Linked DNA regions of Homo sapiens. The protein of the gene in region 1 purifies or fractionates together with the protein of each later gene. This does not show direct contact. Each region holds a gene or a part of one and is shown on either strand. Other genes may lie near its edges. The genes, in order: SLC7A14, GOLM1, RMDN3 and FAM162A.

Region 1 (7,026 bases):
ATTTTTTTAAAAAAATTTTTTGAAATGGAGTCTTGCTCTGTCTCCCAGGCTAGAGTGCAGTGGTGTGATCTCAGCTCACTGCAACCTCCATTTCCTGGGTTCAAGCAATTTTCCTGTCTCATCCTCCCAAGTAGCTGGGATTACAGGCACTTGCCACCACGCCTGGCTAATTTTTGCATTTTTTATAGAGATGGGGTTTTGCCATGTAGGCCAGGCTAGTCTCGAACTCCTAAACTCAGGTGATCTGCCCTCCTCGGCCTCCCAAAGTGCTGGGATTATAGACGTGAGCCACTATGCCCAGCCAAGAGATTGTAAATGTGTTATAAAAATTGGTTAAAATCTTGATGAGTCAGTGGGGTCCTCTCAAGAAATCCTCCTGAAGTCTAACCAGGGGGACTTAGAATAGTGAAAAATTGGGACAAAATGCTTACAGGAAGCCATAGAGCAGCCTTCAGAAGCAAGGAGTCAGGCCTCTGGGGAAGACATATGCCCTTTCCATTGGTTGCTACTTTTTCCCCCACTTCTTTCTATCTATATCTTAACTTATAGGGCCACTTTGTATTCTACCCCCTCCAAGTTTTTTCTGGCAATTCTGACTGGAAGTTTTCCTTTTTCCCCTTTGAAGAGTACTTTATAATAATTTAAGAAGTATTTTTGAGCACATACTGCGGGCACCCTGCTCCAGACACGGAGGACACATGTTGAACAAGTGTATTCCTGATCTCTAGGAGTGGATGCACTGCCACTCATCACTAAGAGTCTCTGTGGGCTGGGCACAGTGGCTCATGCCTGTAATCCCAGCACTTTGGGAGGCTGAGGTGGGCAGATCATGAGGTTGAGAGTTCGAGAACAGCCTGGCCAACATGGTGAAACCCTATCTCTACTAAAAACACAAAAATTAGCAGGGCATGGTGGCACTCACCTGTAATATCAGCTACTCAGGAGGCTGAGGCAGGAGAATTGCTTGAACCTGGTTGGCGGAGGTTGCAGTGGGCCATGATCAAGCCACTGCACTCCAGCCTGGGCGACACAGCAAGACTCCATCTCAACAACAACAAACAAAACAAAACAAACAAATAACAACAACAACAACAACAACAAAAAGAGTCTCTTTGGCCTCTCTTGGGCTAAGTGACTCGTGTGTTTGTCTTGCCTCTCCTTTAGGCAGGGTTTACTCTTCTATTCCCCAGAGCTTCTAAAGATCCTCTTTAGCTAAGAATTTGTTATCAGAGACCCCAGGGTTACCAAGTTGTTCAGAGGACATACAAATAGTGACTAAGGAACTTTAAAATGAGTCTTCCATTACACTTCTCAAGTTCTTACTAGCATCAATCCCCAGCCACCTCATGAACATCAGAGATTGTCCTAGATGATAAGCAAGTACTGCAAATACAATAGAAATGGATCACAAAGTAAAATTAGAAATCTTAGAGAAGGTACAGGACTTCTTGAAGTCCGTGAAAGTGAGTTTAGAGAACAATTTGAATTCACACCCAAAATTGTAGACAATTGAGGACCTAACAGAGTCATATTAGTTATTACCAGCAGGAGAGAGAAAATCAGTAAGGATGGTGGCATGATGGGTACTTCCCAAGTGAATGATTGGAATGTCAATGAATGAAGAAAGGACCTTGGGAAATATGAAAAACTTTTGAATATTTTACAAAAGTCAGTATGAAGTGAGAGATGTTAAATGATGCCATGATTCAATTTTGTCAGAAAAATTATGCCAAAAAATCCACACTTAATTCACACCTTGTTCATTTAAAAATGAGAGCATAATTGCTATTTTAATTTAATTTTGTGAAATCTAAGATAGTTTTTCATTTTACAATTCTTAGTTTCTATGATAAAATTCCATCCAAATGCCCTGACCCCAATTATACTATGCTATTTTTGTCACCTTAAAAATGTGGATTCACTTTAAGTGGACTTTTTCTGGTATTAATTATCCTGATATAGAAAGAACTTTCAGTAATTCAGTAAAGCGATGGATTAATCAACATCATTTTTCCAGAACCAATGACTAAGAACATTACAGGCAGAAAGGGGACAACTGGCTTTATTGACTCTTAGGCGGAACACAAGGGTCCATAGAACCAGCCAGATTTCTCTGGGAACGGAGTTGCCTAGTCCAGCTAGGAGGTAATTTTGGGATAAGCATGCTTAAGACCTTAAAAGGGAACTCTTAAGGCTCCAAAGGAAGTTGCTTACCCACAAAGCACCAGACCGCAAACCGGATCCATGTGATGGTGGAGAGCTTTAGCATGAGATAGATGTTCACCAGCATGGCAAAGGCAGGCACAAAGGGGAGGCAAGGGGCCATGTAGGGCAGCTTCTTGGGGTTCTCTGGCTGCTGCAGGATCACAAACACCAGGGTGCTGATCAGCAGCACCATCAGAACAACCAGAAGGATGGCCCACCAGCTCTGCTCTGAGATGTAGTCAGAACCAAAGATGATGAAGGAGCAGAAGATGAACATGAGGATGAAGAGCAGGAGCACGCAGATGGTCACCGTGTGCCCCGTCGCTGCTGTGGGCCGGTCCATTTTGCCTGGAAGGCCCAGCCGGATTCTCATGGTGTAATAATGAGGCCCAATCAGCTTCTTTAACTTGATGAGATAAATATTTTCGGATTCATCAGCTTCTATGCCTGTGGTCATGTCCACGGTGCCGTAATTGGGGTGGTTGACGTTGTAGGTTGACTTGTCTGATTTCCCTATGAGCATCTCATTGTCTCCCAAGGATGGTAAGTTCTTGGCCCCACATGTGTTGGTGGCTGGGCCAGAAAACTCATCCCCCTCACTCACAGGAGAACAAGCTTCCTTCTCACAGTCAGCCAGAATGCCCTCCTTCTTCTTGGTGTGCTCCTCAGACAAGAACTTGACAAAACCATCAATGTCACTCTCAGGTTGGTATCGAAGGAGCAAGACACAGACAGAGACCAAGGTGTAGGCCAGGAGCGTGCCGATAGACATCATCTCTATCAGGTCTCTCAAGCTGACCAACAGTGCGAGGAGCGCTGCCAGGAACCCCGACACGATGCAGGCCACCACTGGTGTCTCTGTGTAGGAGCTGACGTGAGCCAGGAACCTGGAGGGGCCGGGCAAGCAGAGGGTTAATGGTGAGCTACAGTGACCGATTCCAGTGCAGCCAACATAGGGAGCTAGAACTATCAATAGGCTGGTGTGATTAACTCCTCCTGGTCCTGCTCCACCAATTTACTTCTGCATTCACTACTTTAAATCCAGCTGCTATTCCTACCCCAGGATTTGGTATATAATTAAAAAAGAATTCACTTTAAATCTTTGATTTCTTTTTTTTTTTTTTTTTTGGTGAGATGGTGTCTCACTCTGCTTACTCTGTCCCCCAGGCTGGAGTGCAGTGGCGTGATCTCAGCTCACTGCAACCTCCACCTCCTGGGTTCAAGTGATTCTCCTGCCTCAGCCTCCCGAGTAGCTGGGATTACAGGCATGCACCACTACACCCGGCTAATTTTTGTATTTTTAGTAGAGACAGAGTTTCACCATGTTGACCAGGCTGGTCTCGAACTCCTGACCTCATGATTCACCCACCTCAGCCTCCCAGAGTGTTGGGATTATAGGTGTGAGCCACTGTGCCTAGACTAGTTCTTTGATTTTAAGGCAAAGTTCTTTAGTAAAGTTCCTAATCATTATGTAATGGGAAGGGTTGATTGAACCTAGGAGGTCTGTCTTTCAGAAACCTAGATTGAAGCCCAGGCTCTGCGTGAAAAAGTGATGGTTGGAGGAAGTCATGGACCTGCTTGGGGGTCCTCCTGACCTGTGAACTAGCATCTTAGCATTCTCTTGGAGCTTGTTAGAAATGTATATTCTCAGGTTTCACCCAATAACTACTATACCAGAATCATAGTAGGGTGAGGCCTAGCAAACTGCTTTAAAAGACCTCCAGAGGATTCTGATTTATGCCAAAGCTTGAGACACCACCTATAACAAAAGTTCATGGGTTTAGTTGGCAAAATAGCACAGTAATTGAGAAACTGTGCTCGTAGATACAGATTTATGTCCAGCTAGTTACTGACTGAAGAAGAGACCAAGAAGAGCGACTGAATGGCATGTGCAATAGGCTCCCTCTCCTCTCCCCTCTCCTCCTGGTCCCTTATTTTTATGGTTCACACAAGACTGTAAATGTGTTTGAAGCCCCAGTATCTTTCCTGTTAGTTTCTTTGACAGCAGAAAAATCTTTTGGATGTGTGAAGTTCCCACGCCTCCATCACCCTAGGCCCCTCTTGATCTGTTCGGCAACCTAATCACAGCAGCTCTGATCTGGTGATGGCTTCAGAGAGTATGCAGGGGAAATGAGTCAGAAGATGATGTCTGCAGAGACAAAGTCCCTGAACCGGCCCCCTCTGCACACCTGAGAGCTCCTTGGCCTCCACGGTTTACTCCTTGCTTTGTGCACTTGAAGAATGCCTTCTCAGCAGGCCCCTCATGCTGGAAACAAAGGGCTGGGGCCACATCCCCTTTGTACCATGGGCAGATGGGCCACTTCATGGCCAATGTAGGGGGCAAGAACTGCCAATATATTGGTGTGGTTAAAAGTCTGATTTTTGGAGTCGGATGTTCTGGGATCAAATCCTGACCTGCCACTCAGTAGCTGAGGGATTTGTGGCAATTTTGTTTCACCTCTCTGAGTCCTAGTAGACTTCATATGCAAAATAGAGTTACTGTGAGGACTAAATGGGATACTGTATACACAGCACCCAGGACACACAAATGTTCAATAAATGGCAGCTGGTGTTGCAGGTATTGTTAGGATCTGTTCAGAGGGTCTTATCTACTCTTTGTTGACTTTTTTTTTTTTTCATTTTCAGAGGGGCTGTGGAGAGTGGGGCAGTTACCAGGCCTCAATGTGAGGGCAGGCCTAAGATGTCCCTAGGATGGTTCTTCCTTCTGGAGGCCACCCAGTACAGCAGTTTGGCCCCATCATCTTCACAAAGGAGCACGCAATGTCGACAGGAGGGAGGACAGTGGGGGGACACACATCAGCTTGTGCTGGATTAAGGGACTGCAGAGTTAAACTAGGGGCTGCTTCAGGGCCTGAGCTCTGTTACTCAGACTTTTCTTCAGGATACATAACAAGGTCCACAGTCCATGTGAAAGGCACTGATGTCAAAATCACAGTCAGTCTGACAGTGGGTAGACATTCTCCCTGGACAGACGTGGCAGAGCAGGATAAATTTCATGGAGCATAGCCCTTACCTGAAAAGGAGCCCGTCACCAGCCATGGCATAAATGACCCTCGGCATCGGGAAGAGGGACCCCAGCAAGCTGACTGTCAGTCCTGCAACCGACCCAATGGCCACTACGAATTTGGCAGCATAGAACCCATGAGCCACAAACATCTCCATGAGTGGGGATTCCGTGTCAATGGTATAATATGGCACCATCAGAGTTAAGATCACGCTCACCTGTTAAAACAAGAGAAGACAGGGCTGGAGGTACAGGGGAAGAACAGCATGGATAGAGGCCCCACGGGAGAGGAAAGAGCCCTGCCCCTGGAGGCAGAGGCTTGCATGGCAGTTTGGATCCATTCACTTGCTGGCATGTGCCTTTACTGTAGACCAGTCATCTGGCCTCTAGGCCTTGCTCAATATTATTTCCCCACATGTGAATTTAGTGGACTGGGCCAGAAACTCTCTATCTCTCTGGTCCTTTGATATCTGAGGAGTAAGTCTGCAGGTATTTCAGCCCCATGAGCAGAGCTATGCTAACAGTTCAGTGGAGAGCAGATATTTCTGGAAGGAAGGAGCTGCAGCCAATGCCCTGCAACCAGGGCCTGGCAGGGACCATGAGCACCCTGCCCACGTGGACAAGACTCTCATTTCTCTTCTGCTTTCTGGTCCTACAGGGTTTTATCCGTACTCCCTCTCACTGTGAAACACCAGAGATAAAATCTCCAAAGATAAGTGCTTAAGAGGTCTATAGCCTATTAACTGTTGGGACCCAGATAAGGACTCATATTTCTATTTCCTTTCTCTAGCTTAGTCCTAGGATCCAGGCAGGCCAACAGACAAATGATGGCATCAGGACAGAATCAAGTCCTACTGATTATATGGCTGTCAGACAACTATGGCTTTGCTTAATCAGGAATCATTTACTGTGTGTGCTATAAGGGTCCACCCCCAGAGAAGAGGGAGATGCGAGGGAGGAGCAGAAGAGGAAATAGAGAGCAGAATGTCTTTGCTATTCCCTCTACCCTACCACCCCTCCTTCAACACTCTGCCTACGGGGAGAAATCAGGGTATGGACAGGACAAAGCCACTGGCATGCATGTGCATCGGGGAGGTGATAAGCACTTAACTGGGGGCTCCCAGGACCTACTCCCCTCGCATATTATTGATCTGCCTAACATCCCTGCCTTCAGAATTGGCCATAGGCAATGGAGCCACCAGTCATATGGCCAGATATGGGGGGCCCCCCAGGCCTATGAAGGCCAAATTGACATCAAGAAGGGATTCAAAGCCTGAAGGAAAGAGGGTGGTCACATGTAGACCATTTCTTTGCCTATTCCTCTGGAGCCAAGATCCTCCAGTGGAGCCAAGGGCCACCAAGGAGGACAGGATGTCCTAGCAAAGCCCAGCAACCTTGTTCTTCTCATGGTGGGGGAGGGGCTGCCTGCTGACCAGTACAAGACCAAACAGCTCCTAGGGCGTGTTTAAGGCCTGTGCAGTATGAAAGAGAATGTTTCCTAGTAACATAACCACTTGCAATATTTCCTCTGGGGATGGGGCAGGGTGGGCTGGAGGAGAGTGGGATTGAGCCTCCTCCAGCTTCAGGGAGTCTCCTGAGTTAGATCAGGATGGGTAAAAAGTTGGTGGATCATAGAAGTACTCTGTGGTCTATAAAGTGCTATTCTAAGGAGGGCACTGTGATGATTGACTTTATTGTGTGTGATAAGGGCCCACTCCTGGAGGAAGGGCGGGAATGAAGGAGGAGTAGAAGGGGAAATGCAGAGTGTCCTTGCTGTTCCTTCTGCCCCGCAACCC
Region 2 (7,026 bases), on another chromosome or scaffold:
TTTGGCTATTGATACTTGCATATGCTTCACGAAGTTCTCGTGCTGTGTTTTTCAGCTCCATCAGGTCATTTATGTTCTTCTCTAAACTGGTTATTCTAGTTAGCAATTCCTCTAAACTTTTTTCAAGGTTCTTAGCTTCCTTGCATTGGGTTAGAACATGCTCCTTTAGCTCGGAGGAGTTTATTACCCACCTTCTGAAGCCTACTTCTGTCAGTTCATCAAACTCATTCTCTGTCCAGTTTTGTTCCCTTGCTGGCGAGGAGGTGTGATCCTTTGGAGGAGAAGAGGCATTCTGGTTTTTGGAATTTTCAGCCTTTTTGTGCAGGTTTTTCCTCATCTTTGTGGATGTATCTACCTTTGGTCTTTGATATTGGTGAACTTCAGATGGGGTTTCTGTGTGGATGTCCTTTTTGTTGATGCTATTCCTTTCTGTTAGTTTCCCTTCTCACTGTCAGGCCCCTCTGCTGCAGGTCTGCTGGAGTTTGCTGGAGGTCCACTCCAGACACTGCCTGGGTATCACCAGTGGAGGCATCAGAAAAGCAAAGATTGCTGCCTGTTCCTTCCTCTGGAAGCTTTGTCGCAGAGGGGCACCCACTAGATGCCAGCCGGAGCTCTCCTGTATGAGGTGAGCTGTCAACCCCTGCTAGGAGGTGTCTTCCAGTCAGGAGGCACAGGGGTCAGGGACCCACTTGAAGAGGCAGTCTGTCCCCTAGCAGACTTTGAGTGTTATGCTGGGAGATCTGCTGCTCTCTTCAGAGCTGGCAGGCAGGAACATTTAAGTCTGCTGAAGCTGTGCCCACAGCTACCCCTTCCCCCAGGTGCTCTGTCCCAGGGAGCTGGGAGTTTTATCTGTAAGACTGGGGCTGCTGCCTTTCTTTCAGAGATGCCCTGCTCAGAGAGGAGGAATCTAGAGAGGCAGTCTGGCCACAGTGGCTTTGCCGAGCTGCAGTGGGCTCTACCCAGTTCGAACTGGCAGCTTTCTTTACACTGTGAGAGGAAAACCACCTACTCCAGCCTCAGCAATGGCGGATGCCCCTCCCCTCTACCAAGCTCGAGCATCCCGGGGCAACTTCAGACTGCTGTGCTGGCAGCAAGAATTTCAAGCCAGTGTTTCTTAGCTTGCTGGGCTCCATTGGGGTGGAATCCAATGAGTTAGACCACTTGGCTCCCTGGCTTCAGCCTCCTTTCCAGGGGAGTGAACAGTTCTGTCTCGCTGGCGTTCCAAGTGCCACTGGGGTACCAAAAAAAAAAAAAAAAAAAAAAAAAAAACTCCTGCAGCTAGCTCAGTGTCTGCCCAAATGGCCGCCCAGTTTTGTGCTTGAAACCCAGGGCCCTGGTGGTGTAGGCACCTGAGGGTATCTCCTGGTCTGTGGGTTGCGAAGAGCATGGGAAAAGCGTAGTATCTGGGCCAGAGTGCACTGTCCCTCATGGCACAGTCCCTCATAGTTTCCCTTGGCTAGGGGAGGAGTTCCCCAACCCCTTGCACTTCCTAGATGAGGCGATGCCCCACCCTGCTTCTGCTCACCCTCTGTGGGCTGCATCCACCGTCTAACCAGTCCCAGTGAGATGAGCCAGGTACCTCAGTTGGAAATGCAGAAATCACCTGTCTTCTGTGTTGATCTCGCTGGGAGCTGCGGACCAGAGCTGTTGCTATTTGGCCATCTTACCAGCCACTCTGTTGTTGTTTTAAATAACCTAATCTTGTCAATCCTTTATTACTTCTCGATTGTTGTTATATTTAGAAGGGCATTTCCTATTCTAAGTTTATAAACAACTTACCCACATTTTTTTCCAATGTACAGTTTCATATTTACATTTAAATTGTTCATCCATTTAAAACTCCTTTTTGATGTAAGGAGTAAGGAAATACAAAGAATGCAGAAGTAAGGAAATACAAAGAATGCAGCTTTTTTTTTTCCTGTAGTGACAAGCCAGTTCTGCCAGGGCCCTCTACTGAATAATCTATTTTTACCTACTGCTTTGAACAACTATCTTTGTTATATACTAAATTTTCTAACAATATACTTTTTCTTAAAGAGATGGAATCTTGTCGCCCAGGCTGGAGTGCAGTGGTACAATCATGGCTCACTGCAGCCTTGAACTCCTGGACCTAAGCAATCCTCACACCTCAGTCTCCGAGTAGGCACATGCTGCCGCACATGGCTTGACAAAATACTTTTAGATGTGACCCTTGCAAGGCCTTTTGTTATTCTAGTAGAGGTAAGTCAGTGGGTGGGGTATATTATAAATTTGAAAGCAGAAAATAAACTCCATTCTCACTTCAAGGGAAGTGTACAGATAACCATTTAATATTCTCTTTTCTTTAAACAGCCAATAAAAAATTTATTGAGCAGCTACCATGAGTCAGGTGCTGTATTCACATCAGGCAGCTCAGGGTGGTATTAAGAGCACAGACTGGAATCCCATTGCCATATCTGAATCCTGGCTCCACCACTCAGGAACCCCACAGACTGGAGCCTCACAGCCATGTCTGACACTGGCTCCACCACTCAGGAACTCCAAGACTGGAACCCCACAACCATGTCTGACCCTTGCTCTACCACTCAGGGGACACAGGACCTGTCTGTGCATCACTGTCCTGCTCACAAGGTTTTTAAGAGGATTCAGTGAGTTGAGTGAGAAGCGCTTAGAGCTACATTTGGCACATAGTAATTGCTCAACAAATGTTGACAACTATTAGGGATGGAAAGATGAACAACAAATCATTTCTAGATTCAATCTTTTTTCCATTTTATGAGGAAACAGTGATGCATGTTTTCCTTCCATAACCATTCTACTTTATAGCAACCAGTCCTCCTCTTTCCTTCTCCTGACTCTGCCACCAACTAAAATAGCAGTACCTGCCATTACCTGGGGCTGACCTACAGTTGCCACTGAGGCCGTGGACATCCCAGACCAGGATCATATTATGAAAAAGGTTTGAGGAAGCCAAGCCTCAAACAGTCCTGGAAGTCATACAATCCTGGAAGCCCCTCACTGTCACCCAGTGCTTGGCTGGCCAGGAAGGTGAGCAGCTGTCTAGACAGCACTCTTAGGAGAGCCCTGGGCTCCCAATGGGAGCAGGGCTGCCCAGGTAAATAGTGACACAAGGAAAGGAAGTAACACAATGAGGCTTCAGGCCTGCAAGGTGCCTCCTCACAGGCTTCCAGGACTGTAGAAACCCTTGCTGCTGAAGGATAAGGGACACACACTGGCGAGAAATGATCAAGACTGATGAAGGCTGGTGGCAGGAACTCACAGGCAGAGTTTATGGTGGTCAAATACATCAGACACTCTCCCTTCTCCCACCTTAGAATTTATTTGGATTGCGGATGAGATGGAAGTGGGTGAGTGATATACTGCATCAAACAGAGGTATTAATTTAATATTCATTTTCATTTAAGCTTCAGAATATGTTTGTCTCATACTTGGTTATAAGCTTCCAACATACTGAAAATGATTAACTTAAATCAGCTAAACTCTGTGAGGCTCCAGGCTTTCCCAAAATTAAAACAAGTGGTGTGTTTTCACATTAAAAATCACTTGATAGGCTGGGTGTACACAGTGGCTCATGTGTATAATCCCAGCACTTTGGGAGGCCAAGGCAGACGATCACCTGAGGTCAGGAATTTGAGGCCAGCCTGGCCAACATATCAAAACCCTGTCTCTACTAAAAATACAATTAGCTGGGCATGGTGGTGTGTGCCTGTAATCCCAGCTACTTGGGAGGCTGAGGCAGGAGAATCGCTTGAACTTGGGAGGCAGAGGTTGCTGTGAGCCAAGATTGCGCCACTCACTCTAGCCTGAGTGACAGAGCGAGATTCTGCCTCAAAAAAAAAAAAAAAAAAAGAAACAACAACAAAAAAACCCCAAAATTATCTGGGTGTGGTGGCACACACCTGTAATTCCAGCTACTTGGGAGGCTAAGGCATGAGAATTGCTTGAACCCAGGAGATGGAGGTTGCAGTGAGTTGAGATTGCGTCACTGCATGCCAGCCTGGGCGACAGAGCAAGATTTCTGTCAAAAAAAAAAAAAAATCACTTGATAAATCAGAAAAGGAAAAAACTGCATATTCTTACCTACTGGCTTAATTTAAAAATTCAACCTATTGGTTAAAATTATTATTTGCTTTTAAGACAAAATGTTTGTAATTTAACAAAGCCTTCTAATTACTTTTTTTAAAAGAAAGAAAAGGCATATGAAAATGGACAACATGCCAAATACACGAGCCCCTTGACCCTCCTAGTCAAATATTATGTTTAACATTTCCTTATTTTCATATAGGGCTTTAAATCAGAAAAGCAAATATATAGGAGCAATCGCGTCAGATTAGCATGTTTGACCAACATCAACCAGTGCAGAAACTGGGCTTCTCCAAACAGTGGTGGAGCCACACCTCTAACTCCTTCTCAGAGGAATGGCCCCAGCGGCTCAGCAGGAAGTTCAGAAGTCACTGCAATGAGCAAACAGACCTGAGCACACCCCGGCGCAGCCTGGAGTCCGGGAAAGAATCAGTCACCAAGTTTTCTGATGGCCTGGAAATATTCCACCCTGTCCCAAGAATGTCTCTAAGCCAGGGGTGAGCAAACTATGGCCCACAGGCCATATCCGGGCCTGGTTTTTTTTTTTTTAAAGTTTTACTATACACTGCCATAAATACTGCCTATGGCTGCTTTCTGGCTACAAAGTAGAACTGAAAAGTTGAGACAGAGACAGAGACTCACAGACCAACTCTGCCCATAGGGTATTGTGAGGATTAAACATTTACCATCTGACCATTTAGACAGTTTGTCAACTCTGCCTCTAACCCATTGGGATTAAATGACCAAGGTCACTGTGTTCTGCTTAAATTGCTTTAAAAACTTACTAGGAAATACACAGACTCTCTTCCTCTCACTTCCCCAAAATGAACACCATCTTTTCCCCAATGCTAGAAGCTGACAGTGTCTAAAGATTAAAACTTTTAAAATGAATGTATAGTGGTAGGTAGTAGAAACACCAAAAAGCGAGGTGGATGAGTGAAAATGAACTAGGGAACCAAATTCTTCCTGTTTTGAAATTTTCTGAAGAAAGGTTGAACCACCGTCAAGAATATATCCTGGGGCCAGCACGATGGCTCACGTCTATAATCCCAGCACTTTGGTAGGCTGAGGCAGGAGGATCACTTGAGCCCAGGAATTCGAGACCAGATTGGGCAATGTTATGCAGGGAGACCCTGTCTCTACAAAAAAATATTTAAAAAAGAATACATCTTGGGCCAGGCACGGTGGCTAATGCCTGTAATCCCAGCACTTTGGGAGGCCAAGGCAGGCGGATCACCTGAGATCGGGAGTTCAAGACCAGCCTGACCAACATGGAGAAACCCTGTCTTTACTAAAAATACAAAATTAGCCGGGCGTGGTGGTGCATGCCTGTAATCCCAGATAGTTGGGAGGCTGACGCAGGAGAATCACTAGAACCTGGGAAGCGGAGTTTTCGGTGAGCCGAGATAGTGCCATTGCTCTCCAGCCTGGGCAAAAACCCCGTCTAAAAAAAAAAAAAAGAAAAAGAAAAGAAAAGAAAAAAGAATACATCTCAGTAGGAGCTCAATTTTTCCTTGAGTCACAAACTGCCGCCCAAGGGCCCAATCCTGCCAGCCATCTATTTTTGTACACTGCCCACAAATTAAGAATAGTTTTTACATTTTTTTTCTTTTTTTTTGAGACGAAGTCTTGCTTTGTCACCCAGGCTGGAGTGCAGTGGCGCAATCTCAGCTGTCTGTAACCTCTGCCTCCTGGGTTCAAGTGATTCGAATGTCTCAGCCTCCCAGGTAGCTGGAATTACAGGCACATGCCACCACGCCCAGCTAATTTTTGTATTTTCCCTTTTTTTTTTTTTTTAAAATAGAGATGGGGTTTCACCATGTTGGCCAGGTTGGTCTCGAACTCCTGACTTGAAGTGATCCGCCCACCTCAGCCTCCCAAAGTGCTGGGATTACAGGCATGAGCCAACGTGCCTGGCCAGTTTTTACATTTTCAATGGTTGAAGAAAGTTAAAAGAATAATATTTCATGACAGAGTGCTTCAAAGGGCTGAGATAAATTCTCCACATATTCCTGGCTGCCTGGAAGATTATGCGCGCGTGGGAAAGACCCAAAAGAGCCCAGCAGGGCTGAAAACCAAGAAGAACCGAGAACCAGCTGAAACTTGCAGTGTTCCCCAACTCGCACACAGACCTACTGATAGAGGGATGGAGACTGACCTGGCAGGTGACTCCTGGTTCAGTGCTCCTTGGAGAATTTGGATGCCATGAAGTGATATTAGATGTCAGTTTAGCTACCTGTTATTTTGAGTGCTTCCTTAGCGGTACTGTTGAGGCAGTGTGGCTTAGGAAAAGAGTACTGATGTGGGTCAGGCCAAAAGGAATTTTAATCCTAGCTTTCTTACTATTTGCATGAATTTTGGTGAGTTGTATAATCCCCCTCTCTGTATCTTATTCAATCCTTGTAAAAGTCCATTGAAGTAGGCTTACTACTGACCCCATGTTCTAGGATGCAGTGATATGAGACTTTAAATATGTAAAACCTTTTGTTGTGAGGATTAAAAATTACAGCGGCAATAAAGTACACACCACATGATAACTGCTCGATAGGTTTTTTTTTTTTTTTTGGTTTGGAAATAAAAGGATATCTCATGACACATGAAAATTACATGAAACTAAAACTTCTGTATCCATAAATAAAGTTTTACTGGAACAGAACCATGCCCATTCATTTACATATTATCTGTGGCTACTGGGCTATAACAGCAGAGCTGAGTAGTTGTGACAGGGACCACAGGGTCTGCAACATCTAAAATAGTATCTGGTCCTTTTCAGAAACAGGTTGCCAACTCCTGCTGTAGTTCAATGGTCCTTAAAGTGTGGTCCCCATATTAGCAGCATCAGCATTACCTTGGAATTTGTCAGAAATGCAAATTTTGTGGCCGACCCCAGACCTACCAAGTCAGAGGTCTGTTTATTCCACTAATAAATGCAAACACAGGACA
Region 3 (7,026 bases), on another chromosome or scaffold:
TTGGCTGTTGTGTAACTGGCAGAGAAATGTAAGGGACAACAAGAGGATTATTCAGCTCAGAGCCCCTAGGGTCTGTCTATCCCTCACCCCCAAAGAAGCACTCTACATGGCATTGTCCAAAGCACCAAATCACAATCATTCATACCTCTTAAGGGCAGACTTTTTTTCTTTTTTTTTTTTTTTTTTGAGACAGGGTCCCGCTCTGTCACCCAGACTGGAGTGCAGTGGTTCGATCTTGGCTCACTCAAACCTCCACCTCCTGGGGTCAAGCAATTCTCCCACCTAATTTTTTTGTATTTTTAGTAGAGACGGGGTTTTGCCATGTTGCCCAGACTGGTCTCAAACCCCTGGCCTCAAGTGATCCGCCCACCTCGGCCTCCCAAAGTGCTGGGATTACAGGCATGAGCCACCATGCCCAGCAGAAATCATTATTTGAGAGAAAGTTTCCTATGGGAACTAAGGGCTGGGAAAATGATCCAGGAAGGAAAGAGCAGACAACCAGCTGAGGCCCTGTGACAGTTAAGGCAAATGTGAGAAGTCCCTGCTCGTTTTTGCCTTATCAGTCAGAGACACTTGCCACAACCAACATGGGTGGGTGCAGCCTCAGGCCATGGGCAGCCACACACACATCCACAAACTCGCAACCTCTGGCCCAAGTCAACAACCAAACCTAAACCGCAACAGGAGTAGCCCATAGTAACCTTGAGAACTTAAGGGTGTGAGGAGAGGTGATAGGAACCACTTTGCAGCCAGAAGCAAGAAGGGGAAGACAATGCAAACTACCCCCTGAAAAGGTGTTTGGGGGGCTGCCATATGCCAGGTGGCTCCTAAGGAGCCCCAACCCTGATGCACCCACTAAAGAGGAAGCTGAGTTTCTCTTGGATCTCAGCCACCAGCAGCTGATTAGGGTGTTTTCCCTAAATGCCTAAAATAGATAAGGACTGAGCAGGGGAAAAGGTAGGACTTCTGGGGGTCAGAAGCAAACACAAGGCTGGGGGCGGTGGCTCACGCCTGTAATCCCAGCACTTTGGGAGGCCGAGGCGGGCGGATCAGGAGGTCAGGAGATCAAGACCATCCTGGCTAACACGGTGAAACCCTGTCTCTACTAAAAAATACAAAAAATTAGCCAGGCATGGTGGCAGGTGCCTGTAGTCCCAGCTACTCGGGAGGCTGAGGCAGAAGAATGGGCGTGAACCCGGGAGGCAGAGCTTGCAGTGAGCGGAGATCACACCACTGCACTCCACCCTGGGCGACAGAGCAAGACTCCGTCTCAAAAAAAAAAAAAAAAAAGAATAGGCTCCCTGTGGCTGGAGCAAAACAGGACTGAAGGAGAGATGACACACCACCTACAAATAAAGTCAACAACTGACAGCCTAATGTCAGGGCAGAAGTGCTGTCCTGCCCAGAAAACCAGAAACCACAAGGTGGCAGGCTCTGAAGGCTCTGGAAGTGAGCAGCCAGACCTGGTACCCAGTCCGTGCTGACTGCATCCTTACAGAGGAGCTTCAGCCTCATCTAAAAAAGAGGCCCCAGACACATCTACTACAAGAACTTGTAAGGTATTTAAAACCTTTCCTAACTGCACCTTTGTTTTTTAAGAGGTTATCCAAGTAGATTTCCCCTTTAGTTATTAGAAAAAAAAAAAAACACCTTTAGAAATCAAAGGGACAAGGATAAGTGTCATTAGATTTCGTAACCAACCTGGGTACTGATGAGGGAGACCACCCACAGGCAACCTAGAGAATGAAACTCCCAACTGCACCTGCCAGATTGAGAAAAATCAAACCAGAGTCTCCTCTGCCCAGCCAGGCCCAAATGCAAAATGGGTAGATGGTTTATCTGGAACGGGAAGCTGGAATTGCATCATCTCCCTTTGCTAGAAGGAGGGGGAGACCCTATTTCTTGCTGAGTTGAGGGCTGCCTCAGCCAATCAGGAGTCCAAAGAGGAGTCTCTCTGCCTCCAGCACTCCCAGGGAGGGACCTAGCCCTGCTGGAGCCCAGGCATCAGCACAGAATCCCCTGGGACCTGAGCTGCGATGCTGCCATCCCTCTGGATCCTAAAGGCCCAGCTCACAAAGCCAAGAAGAGAGGTCAGGGAGCCTTGCTGCCACAAACAGAGTGAAAGATGGTAGAGCCCTGTGAGGCAGGGAGGCTCCAGGGAAGCTGGCATAGAAAGTAGACTTTAATTGCATCTCAGCCCCACTTTAAGGAACCCTCAACAATCTGAAACCCTACTGCCTGAGGCAGCTTCTGGGGCCTCAGAAGAGATTAATCACATGCCAAGGGCTACCACATTTACACCATTCTCTCTCACTTTCCACCTCCCAGACTAACCCAGCCAGCCTTTGGAGAAATCTACCAGAGAGGAGTGACCCTTTTAACATACCCTGAGGCTTTTGAGATCTGCCAGAGACGAGCAGGGACCTTTGAAAAGGCCCTTTGGTCCTGTGCACTCCGGAGGACAGGAGTTCCCACAGTGGGCCAGAGACCCAAGGCTCCCTCTGAGCAGAGACTGCCACTCTACTCTTAAGCAGTAATGAAGGACTCAGTTACACACATCTCTCCTCCTGGCAATTAAGTTTCTCTTAACCTAAACCATGTTAGAGACTGAGTATGAGGCCTTCAAAGATAACCAGGCACATGGACCCTGACCTTGAGATAAGACCCAACTTAATGAGGTCATAAATGCCCAAGAAGGAGTCTTCACGATGAGGCTGCAGGCAATTTCTCTTGGCTGAGATGCCTGGGAAGGCTTGCTGGAGGAGCTGGTATTTTAGGGCAAGTTGGGTTCTGACAGAGGGAACTCAAGCTGTGTTTGGTACAATGCCCGGGGAACAAGCTCACAGAGCTGCACAGTGATTCTGCCTCTGCCACCCTCAATCTCCTGAGACCTCAAAGTTGTTATTTGGAAGAAGGAAGGAATACAGCTTTCAGTGAAATCAAGCAGCCCATCAAATCTCAGCCCTTCATCCCTCAAAGCAGCTCTCCTTGCCCCAAGACACACATGTTCAAAGCCATTTCAGAGTTTGTAGACTCCTAGAGCTCCCCCCTTGACCTACATGGCAATGACCATGGCACAAAGAATCATTCACCACGGCCACTGCCCTAGAGAACAGCCGGCTCAACCACACAGTGTTGCACCACCACCTGCTCTCATGCCACGGGACTGGGCATGGGACACAGCCTGAAGGCGCTATAATTAAGAAATCCACTCTTCCCCTTGCCCCATCACAGGTGTCTGGCAGCCCTGGCCTGCTCCTTGTGGCCTTGGGAGTCCCAGTGAGCACCCCTAGCAGTGAAGGACCCCCAGGTGTCCCTGGTTAACTGCTCTGGCTCCCACTGACCCCAGAAGTTTGTACTTCTTTATTTTTTTGGGATGGAGTCTTTCTCTGTCACCCAGGCTGGAGTGCAGTGGTGCAATCTCGGCTCACAGCAAACTCCACCCCCTGGGTTCAAGTGATTCTCCTGCCTCAGCCTCCGGAATAGCTGGGATTACAGGCATGCACCACCACGCCCAGCTAATTTTTCTATTTTTAGTAGAGACAGGGTTTCACCATGTTGGCCGGGCTGGTCTCGAACTCCTGACCTCAAGTGATCTGCCCACCTCAGCCTCCCAAAGTGCTGGGATTATAGGCATGAGCCTCCACACCCCAGCCTCAGTAATTTTTTTTTTTTTTGAGACAGAGTACTGCTCTATCACCGAGGCTGGAGTGCAGTGGTGCCATCTTGGCACACTACAGCCTCCACCTCCTGGGTTCAAGTGATTCTTCTGCCTCCGCCTCCTAGGTAGCTGGGATTACCGGTGCCTGCCAACATGCCTGGCTAATTTTTGTATTTTTAGTAGAGACGAGGTTTCACCATGTTGGCCATCTGGTCTTGAACTCCTGATCTCAGGTGATCTACCTGCCTTGGCCTCCCAACGTGCTGGGATTACAGGCCTGAGCCACCGCGCCTGGCCTAGTACAACTTCTTTAAATCATCACAAAGAGGACCAGGTGCGGTGGTTCATACCTGTAATCTCAGCACTTGGAGGCTGATGTGGGAGAACTGCTTGAGGCCAAGAGTTCAAGAACAGGCTGGGCAACACAGTGAGACCCCATCTGTACAAAAAAAATAAATAGAATTGGCTGGGCATGGTGGCACATGCCTGTAGTCCCAGCTATTCAGAAGGCTGAGGCAGGAGCACCACTTGAGCCCAAGAGGTTGAGGCTGCTGTGCTGTGATGGCACCATGGAACTCCAGCCTGGGCAACAGAGTGAGACCCTGTCTCAAAACAAAACAAAACAAAAACAAAAACAGTTGTGAAGGGCCTCAAGCTTTCTTTGATTTTGGGCAGAGCTGTGACCTCTCCTTCTGTTCAACCTCCTTACAGAGTTCAAACATCAATTCCCCACCCAAGTGGCCTGCTTCCTTGGGTTGCAGAGATGTTCTTTACATCTCAGTGCCCACTATCAACTACTTCCTCGGTCTCTCTCTTCAATTCAGATGTATCAAATATTAATTTCATTTTTGCCCCCTCTTTAACACAACTTCTGGAAGCATCTCTTGGCCCAGAGCCATTTAGGTAAATTGAATAGAAAAGGGCCACCTCTGTTTGCCCTTGAGAATGCAGATAACAGGGATCTGACAACCCAGGCAACAGCAGTCCCCCATGGAAGAGCAGAGAGCTCTTCACCACCACTCCACAGGTTTCTGGAGACCCCGGAGCACTCATCAAATCCAGCGTTGGTGATAATGACATTTCAGTCAACCACGGACTGCGCATATCAGTGGGTGCATACGATTATAATGGAGCTGAAAAATTCCTATCACCTAGTATTTACATTGTATTTTATTTTTCTGAGGCAGGGTCTCACTCTGTCACCCAGGCTGGAGTGCAGTGGCACAATTATGGCTCACTGCATCCTCAAACTCCCGGCCTCCCAAGTAGCTGGGACTACCGACCCATGCCACCATGCCCAGCTCGTTTTTTTTTTTTTTTTTTTTTTTCTTTGAGATGGAGTCTCACTCTGTCTCACAGGCTGGAGTGCAGTGGCGCAATCTCGGCTCACTGAAACCTCTGCCTCCTGGGTTCCAGCAATTCTCCTGCCTCAGCCTCCCGATTAGCTGGGATTACAGGCATGCACCACCACACCTGGCTAATTTTTGTATTTTTAGTAGAGACAGGGTTTCGACATGTTGGCCAGACTGGTCTCAAACTCCTGAACTCAGGTGATCCGCCCACCTTGGCCTCCCCCAGGTAGTTATTTTATGTAGAGACGTGGTCTTGCTGCCTTGTCCAGGATGGTCTCAAGCTCCTGAACTCAAGCAATCCTCCTGTCTCGGCCTCCCAAAGTGCTGGGATTACCCATGAGCCACCACCACACCTGGACTGATTTTAACTTCTAGTTTCCATGTACCTGCTTATAGCTAATTCCTCTGATCCAGCATAAAACTTGGCTGTTCTCTACACCAGTCTTTCCCTTAAGAAGAATAAAGGCTGGACAAGGAGAAATCGGCCTCTAGGCCTCACACAGGCTACCTGAATAACTGGAGCTAGCAGCAGATAAGGTCAGATGGGTCAGATGCTGCTACTGACATCACACTCTATCCTTGGGACCAGAGTTTCAAAGTGGTGCTAGTGGTTTAAACTCAAAACACCCTTAGCATGACCAGACTTGGAGGAGGCTGTCCACCAGACTCCTGCCAGCTGCCCCGCCTCACAGAAAGGCCTATCGTCAGCCCTCCTGGGCCACTGAGAACTCAGGACATCCACCTCCCACCTGTAAAAATGCAAAGGATCACAGGCAAGGCTCCCCTGTGGGAAGAGGGTGACTCCCAGGGAGGAGCATGCTTCGTGCTTAGACATCTCCGTATACCAGCTCAGCCACCCAAGGAAAGGAACAAAGTCAAACAATGCTTATCAAGTCCTTGTGATAACACAGAAAAATGCCCAAATAATATATCATAACTATGTAATAAACTAAGATAACAGATGCAAGCAATAACTGCTATTAACATCTACATTTGTCTGAATGACATAAATTGGATGGGTTTTTTGTTTCAACTCTTCTGTATTTATTATACTCTTACCTGTTCCAAAAATCATTTGCAGCAGCTTGGTTTGAATTTTCCATTGATAATACTTTTACAAAACACAACCTGGCTGTAGCCATAACTGCCTCCAAGAGAGACAACTCACCCCCCTTCACTCTCAGCATCTGTGAACGTGGCTCCCGAGGAGGCCGTGAAGTAGACAGAGCTGGAGCCAGTGGAGTCACTCCTCTCCCGGACAAACGGAAACCTTCGCCGCCGAGCCACTCTCTGGTTCTCTTCCATGTGGCATCTGGAAAGCAGGCCCCATCCCGAAGGGTACCATTAGGTCCCATCCAGCTTGTCTTTCTGCTCACCATGGGGTGCCTCTTACTACTGCTCCTCATTAAAGGGCTAAAAGCAGAGAAAATCCTAAGTCTCTAACCCTCAGGAGGGCAAGCAGGGCAGCTTCCTGGGCCCAGCCCGCACAGACAGACTAGGTTAGGCAAACAGAGCGCTTCAGCTGCTACAACAGATCAACCATGAGAGTCCAGAAGCAGCAAGGAGCATGTGCAAGGCGAGGTACCAAATGTACAGCTTCAACCCAGATTAGGCTAGAAGCTATAGAACTGGTTTATTCTTTAGAGACAGACAGCGAAGGCCAGAACACACCCCAGCTGAAAAGCTGCAGGGGAGGGATAAAGCAGGAGAAGAAGCCGCATTACTCACCGGACCTCCCCAACAATCTCCCCCGCAAGCCCTCGCAGGCTGCTTCTCAGCTCCTCCACCTCCCGCCGCAGCGCCACAAGGCTGGTCAGCACAAAGTCCAGGCGGTCCAGCACCTTCTCCTGTCCTTCCCGTGGAAGGCTGGGCAGCACTGAGGCATCTCCAGCCCCACCTGGGACAGCCCGCAGGAGCATCACTGAAGGGGGAAACGAATGGGAGCCAGTGACACACAGGAATATGGTGGGGAAGAGATCTCACACCCAGAATTCAAGAATACCTGCTTTCCAT
Region 4 (7,018 bases), about 48 Mb from region 1:
ATTTTATTCTTTCAGGAGAAAACAGGTGTGAAAACTCACCTTACATTTGCAGCATGTTCCAAGATATTTCCTAGCATCCTTCATCCAAAAAATATGTATTGCCTGTCTACTATGAACTGAACACCAATAAGTGGTAAGGACTGAGTAAAAACAAAACAGAGCCAGTGTTTACCCTTATGAAACCCAGCGTAGTGTGGGTAAATGGCCATTTAGTTCCTAATCATCTGTATCAGTGCTTTTTAACTTAAAGAGCATGAACTGCTCTGAGTAGCAGATATAAAATATGGACCCTCTCTCTCAAAAATGGTATACAATCATAAAAATTTGAGAAGTTCACAGGACCTCTCAAATGTGGAGGTGTCCAGTACCACAAGTTAACAACCCTGATCTGTATCTACAACTACATCTACAAAACAACAAATTCGAGCTCATAAAAGCCTACATTATGTTTGCTATATTGTTTGCTAAGGGAGTATACCAAAGATTTCCAACAGAAACAAAAGTAAAGGTCCATCATTTATAAGGTTAAGTTTTGATCATCTGAAATTTCACTTACCTAGAGAATCTTATTCCAAATATTCTGGATAAGTAAGGTATGCCTAGATTATGCTTCTTTTCTTTTTTTTTTTTTTTTTTAGACAGGGTCTCACTCTGTTGTCCAGATTGGAATGTGGTAGCATGATCGTATTATAGCTCAATGCAGCCTCAAACTTCTGGGCTCAAGTGATCCTCTTGCCTCAGCCTCCTGAGTAGCTGAGACTATGGGTTTGAGCCACCATGCCCAGCTAATTTTTAAAAGTTTTTTTTGTAGAGACAGGGTCTTGCTAAGTTAGCCAGGCTGGTCTCAAACTCCTGGTCTCAAGCAATCCTCCAGTATCAGCCTCCCAAAGTGCTGGGATAGCAGGTGTGAGCCACCACATTGAGCCTACATTTCTATTTGATCTTTCATTCCTTTGGCTAAGGCTGCTTATTAAAGCAGTCTTCTTTCTTGAAAAGCCATTTGCACATGAAGGTGTACTTTCATTTCAGAACTAAATCTGCATTTCATGACTCTTCCATTTCAGATTAATGAGATCCAATTAGTCATGACAAATTCACACACGCACAGCCCCTGAATGAACAGCTTGAACAACAGCAAAAAGCACAAAAATTCCAGAATTAAAGGGTACCCTCTCCTGGCTCTAACATTTTTTGGCAAAGAGATCCTGGACAAGTCATCTCTGACCTATGTTTCTTCATTTATAAAGTGTGGGAGGAATAAGACTTACCTGAGAGGGCTGCTATGAGAAATCCATCCAACAAAATAATGTATATGAAAGTATTTAGCTATGAAGTGGGTGAAAGGTAGTAGGTTGTTGCGGAGTTGCTCACAAAGCATCAGACATTCGTGGAAGATCATATGGAGAGAGCTGCTCATATAACATCCTTAGTGTGCTATTAAAAATTTTATATCTGAAGTAAAATAAATTGTTCTTAAATCACTCAAGGAATTCTGCTTTGGTTAAGTGGTCAATAGTGAAGTTTTTACACATCAGAAGTTTGCAGAGATGCAAAAATATATTTATGCAAGATGCATAAATATATTCTCAAAGCAAGAAGATGAACTACTTACAATATACTCAGTATTAGTTCAAAGATGTCAAAGTAGTTCCAAGATGTCAAAGTTCTTTTCATGCAGTCCATTTTAACTTTTTTACAGAGCAATGATCCTTTCACTTGCCTTGTTGAAAAGCTTCATAATGTTAATAGGATGTACAGAAGATATTTTAGGTGAATTAGTTCAACAAAACTGACAAAATCAATGAAATCATAGTATTGAGGATTTTAGTGGAAGAAGTGTTTGCTTTTAAAGGAAGTAAATATAATAATACTCTCTAGTTTGAGACATGTTTTCCAGTCCATTCTCTACCGGAACACTAGATAAGCTGTGTAAAGGATAATCTTGAGGTGGGGAAGGTTATGTATCAAACTTGTGAAACTATGCAACATTCACTCTTTTTTTTTGCATTACTTCATTTACATTACAATATATATTTATATTATTTGAATAGCCAAGTTTGGGGCTATTTTTCCTTTAAAAATTTAATTAACAACTTTTTAATAATGTAGTGTGTGCCATTGAACAAAAGATCTCTGGTACCCAGAAAAGAGTCAAAATGCAAGCCCTCTGATTTCTCAACCCCTACTATGCCAAGGCTCTGCTGGTTCTCCCAAAAAAAAAGAATTAAGCTTTCATTACCTAAGTCCAAAATAGTCATCACACAAATGTCTACCACCAAAACAAACTGCAGATCCTTCAATTACACACTTCCTCCAAGAAATTCGAATCAATTAATTGTATAAGTGTTTAAAAGTAATGTATCCTCCATTTTAAGAAAACAATTATTATTAATCTCTAAGACCTAAATCCTTGGCCTAATCAGACATTTAATGAGTGGGGAAACTTCAGACTGGAGGTTTTCTGGGATAAACTCCAGAGAGGAAGGAGCAGGGGGAAGAGGGAAGACTCAAGGAGAGCAATAGATAGGGGAGGTTAGGGTGGAAAGCTGAATGCATGGGTAAAGGGGAGGTCTAGGGATAGTAGGTGCTTTACAGACTGAGCTCAGGGGAGGCTGAGGACGGGGGTGGGGAGAAGGGTAGGCGCGTGGGCAGTTAAGTTGGTGGGAGCTGGGTGGATGGAGATGAGGGTAATTCACGGGCAGTCTCCAATGCCTATCAGCAGCTGCTCACCTAGTTCCCTCCCACATGGCTACTAAGTAGGTAGGATTCTGAGGAACCGAGAAAGTGCGTCATGGAATGGAGCCACTCCGGGGCCCAGGAAGGCTTCAGGATTCCCCCACCCGCAGCGGCCGGGCCAGCTCCCCTACCTCCCATATCCCGACCGGCGTCTCACCTGCTGCCAGGCGCAGACCGCTGAGGCTCCCCATGGCCACTTGCTACTCCGCCGACCAGCGCAGAACTTCGCCGGGGACGGTGGCGCTGGTGAGCTCAATGTCACCCAGCGTTGGAGTGGGAAGGACGCAGGCGGCGCCGGGGGGCGGGGCGTGCGCGACGCGGTGTACAGGCCTGCGCCAGTGCGGGGCGTGTAGGACGTGCGCCACGCGCTGGAGACCCGCGGCGCCAGCCTAGTGCCCCTGGCGCCGCATCCTGAGCCAGCCTCGGAGATGGTCCTGTGGAGTGTGGCGCCGTGGGCCCTTGCCCTAGCGGATATGTACCCATGGGAGTACCTGTGTGAAATAGAAAGGAAATGTGCAACTTTCGTGATCTGTAAACTCCCGAAATACACCAGATAAACCAGTATTCCAGTATGCCGCTCTTCCAGTGTTTTCAATGAACATATGCTTTTATCAGAAAACACATAATTGGACTCTGCTCAGTGGCCCTATCTCTTGTTGGAGCATCCCTCAGGCTAATCTGAGAAATTAACATGTATGTTTTCAATTTGTTTTCTATTTACCTATTTTCTAAAAACATTTGATCATCTCCATCCTAAACACTTTACTCATACCCACCCACACTGCCAGAAATGCCGTTTTTTCTTGACGTTTCTTAGTGGTCCCAAATTCTTAACAAAGACCCCCCTGCTCCAGGGTCCGGGGAGGAGGTTAGGCACTGGAGTGAGAGGTATTAGAAAGGCCTCACTTGCCTAGATTTCCTTCAACGACCTGGTAGGGGAACCACAAGGAAATTGTTTCCCTTTTGTGAAAAGATGGGATTGGAGTAAACAGTCCCTTCAAGGTCTGACAATCTTTGATCCATGTATCTGGCCCAGTTCCAGGAGGACATGTTAAAAGGGTTGGGACAGCAGGGTGACAGGTTCCGAGGTGGATGCGGACCACGTTGAACTCAAGCCTTGCACTCAGCTTTCCTAAGGATTCCCCTCGTACTATATTTTTTGTCAGGCGACTCCGCGGTCACCTTTGCTCCGCGGTGATTGGCCTGCAGCGGGGTCCTCGTGTTTGTCCAATATGGCGGCGCCCAGTGGCGGTGTGAACTGTGAGGAGTTCGCCGAGTTCCAGGTGATGGGGTTTTCCTCATGTGGCAGGCATGTGCCTCCTTTTGTCCCCAGACCCTATTCCCTGCTTTGCGAGGGAGTATGAACCAGCTTTGGAAAAAGCGGGCAATTCAAAGCTCTTTTCTCGAGCCATTGGAGGTCATGGGGGGCGCGGGTTTGGCCTTAGGGAGCGAGGCTGCTCTGTAGGAGGAGGGAGGAGGGGGGTCATAGTTCTCTCCGCGGCTCTCCGGCCTTGTCTGGGAAGCTCTGGGTAATCTGCTGTGGTAAAGCTCGGGATGCGTGGATAAGGATTGTAACAATCTTGTAGCAGTTCCCTGAACTCAGTTTCCAGCTTCTGCCATTCCTCTCCTACTTTTGTAAGTAGAGTTTTTGTGGGAGAGAAGAAGGTGCAGAAGAGCTATTTAGTTGATAAAACATACTTGGTGCAATTTACTATTTTTGTGGGACAGGACGTATGGAAGCTTGGAGGGAGGATTAATTATAGTACCTGCTCTAGTGTCATTGCCCATTAGAGAAGATGTAATATTTAGAGGTTTTGCCTTTTTATGTTCAAATATCAGAGACCTAGGGCTAATTATTAACACCTGAATGCAAGAATAGGGATCTGGTTTTGACCAAGTTGCCATTAAAGTTATCTGTTCCAATTCAGTCATAAATGTGCTTCTGTTTAGTTACAAAGTTGAATTCCAAAATCATGATCTTAAATATGTATTGCATTATTAACTAACCCAAGATACTGAAAAATTGACCTATCTGTAGTAAGCTTTGTACTTTGAACGGTTTGAAGGTAGTGGTATTCTTGAATACTGCCTCAGCCTCCCTGTAGCTAGGACTACAGGCACGTGTCACCACGCCCGGGTAATTTTTTAAAAGAAATTTTGTAGCGAGAGTGTCTCACCAAATAATCCTCTTGCCTCGTCCTCCCAAAGTGTTGGGATTACAGGCGTGAGTCACCACGCCCGGCCTAAAGTGTTTAAAATTTTTGCAACTCTTATTTTTTCATTATAAAAATTAGATTTAGTACTTCTGTAAAATATCCTATTTCCAAATTGAAATAAAATCCAGAAAAGAGTGTTTAAAATCGAGTGCCTAGAATCCCATTTTAGCATGCATTCAAGAATTTATTAGATACTGTATTAGTCCGCTAGGGCTGCCATAACAAAATACCACAGACTAGGTGGCTTAAACAATAGAGATTTATTTTTTCACAGTTCTGGAGACTAGAAGTCCAAGATTAAGCTGCCATCAGTTTCTAGGCTATACAGTTTGATTTAAGGGGGGAAAAAGAGTGCCATCAGAATTAGTTATAGTAAGGCTTCTCTTCCTGGCTTGTAAATGGCTGCTTTCTCACCATGTCTTCTCTATGTCACTATCTCTTCTCTGTGCCTGCACCTGGAAGGAGAAGGATCTCTGCTATCTCTTCCTCCTCTTCTTTTTTTTTTTTTTTTTATTTTTTTTTTGAGACAGAGTCTCGCTCTATCCCCCAGGCTGGAGTGCAGTGGCACAATCTTGGCTCACTCCAACCTCCACCTCCCGAGTTCAAGCGATTCTCCTCCTGAGTAGCTGGGATTATAGGCGCCTACCACCGTGCCCGGTTAATTTTTGTATTTTTAGTAGAGATGGGGTTTCACCATGTTGACCAGGCTGGTTCCAAACTCCAGACCTCAGGTGATCCGCACCCCTTTCAGCCTTCCGAAATGCTGGGATTACAGGCGTGAGCCATGGCGCCCAGCCTATCTCTTCCTCTTCTTATAGGGACATCAGTTCTATCGGATTAGGGCCCACCCTTATGACCTCTGTTTAACCTTTATTACATACCTCAAGGCCCTATCTCCAGATACAGTCATGTTGGGGATTAGGGATTCATGAATTTTGGGGACACACAATTCAACCCGTAACAGATACCTACTAGTCTCCTGGCACTTGCGAAACCCAGTGGATGGAGTATAAAACAAGGAACGTAATCTAAGTAGGGCTATAAAATGTAGAAAATATTGGGAAGAAAAAAGAATAAAATGCTGAAAGAATTTAGAGAGTTGGGCCTTAGGCAGGCAGGGACTAGGGGTATTCTAGGCAGAGGCAATAGGATAATAGACAAAAAAGTTTTATGTATTTAAAGGAAATAGAAAATCAGTATTGCTAGAACACATTATTCATACAGGGGCACATTGGGATTACACAAGATTGCAACCAGATTTGTGGAAAGCCTTGTGTGTCACGTGTGAGTTAGGGAGTCCTTTTTGGGCAGAGGGGTGAGATGATCGAAGAGGTGCTTTAGGAAGATTCATCACTACTGCCAGTGGCTTTGTTTAGGCCCGTATCATTTTTGAAACTAGCTTTGCAACAGGCCTTCCTATCTTCTGGCACTTTTTTTCTCTACTATATTCCCCCTTCAATCTAATCTCCATAATACTGTGGCATATGCTATTATATTCTGAATTTTATAATCTAAGCTATGCTTTTGAGTTTTGGGTTCATATGACTAGATATAAACTTCTTAACATGGCATATAAGACCTTTTAAAATCCAATCCCAAAGTGCCTCTTGTCATGTCTCTTATTATTGTCCTCATACGTGTCTCTTTCATCATACCCACCCCCCAGCACTTCAACATGCATGTTTAAATATTAGTATTTCTATTAGGAATATTCATTGACACATAAGTGATTTTTGAATCACATTGTAATTAGGTACTAAATAGGTTATTTTCTAGCATCAATGATGGTTTCTTTTATGCTTACAGGGCTGCTTTCTATTCCTGTCCTGGGGATGCTGGGTGTTAGAGGACTCTGGCAGTTGTAGACAAGTTTGTGTTTCTGGTTTGGGGGAAGCACCGTGGGAGCTTTGATGTAAAAATAGAGTTTGAGGAACCAGATCTGTCTGAAAAGAGCATCATGTAAAAGGGACTTTGATGTCAAGTACCAATGACATTACTTCTGGGTACCATCAGGCAAAGGGAGAGGAGAGGAAAGGTTAAGGGAGTTCCATATCATTCTTTGGAGT

What was found.
Region 2: the proteins of SLC7A14 (region 1) and GOLM1 purify together in Homo sapiens (co-immunoprecipitation; 3 studies listed by BioGRID and IntAct, with this or other methods). This does not show direct contact.
Region 3: the proteins of SLC7A14 (region 1) and RMDN3 purify together in Homo sapiens (affinity purification with mass spectrometry; 2 studies listed by BioGRID and IntAct, with this or other methods). This does not show direct contact.
Region 4: the proteins of SLC7A14 (region 1) and FAM162A purify together in Homo sapiens (affinity purification with mass spectrometry; 2 studies listed by BioGRID and IntAct, with this or other methods). This does not show direct contact.

Annotation. Positions count from the first base shown.
Region 1 is NC_000003.12:170,478,075-170,485,100, forward strand, and holds part of SLC7A14 (solute carrier family 7 member 14), read right to left. Parts: intron 5,449-7,026; coding exon 5,240-5,448; intron 3,093-5,239; coding exon 2,215-3,092; intron 1-2,214. UniProt on the Homo sapiens protein: Imports 4-aminobutanoate (GABA) into lysosomes. May act as a GABA sensor that regulates mTORC2-dependent INS signaling and gluconeogenesis. The transport mechanism and substrate selectivity remain to be elucidated.
Region 2 is NC_000009.12:86,089,546-86,096,571, forward strand, and holds part of GOLM1 (Golgi membrane protein 1), read right to left. Parts: intron 1-7,026.
Region 3 is NC_000015.10:40,745,245-40,752,270, forward strand, and holds part of RMDN3 (regulator of microtubule dynamics protein 3), read right to left. Parts: intron 6,935-7,026; coding exon 6,742-6,934; intron 6,427-6,741; exon of another isoform or gene 6,326-6,426; coding exon 6,182-6,325; intron 2,491-6,181; exon of another isoform or gene 2,387-2,490; intron 16-2,386; coding exon 1-15.
Region 4 is NC_000003.12:122,380,175-122,387,192, reverse strand, and holds the start of FAM162A (protein FAM162A), read right to left. Parts: upstream 3,012-7,018; 5' UTR 2,928-3,011; coding exon 2,894-2,927; intron 1-2,893. Other genes in the region: protein MIX23, read left to right, coding at 3,969-4,019. UniProt on the Homo sapiens protein: Proposed to be involved in regulation of apoptosis; the exact mechanism may differ between cell types/tissues.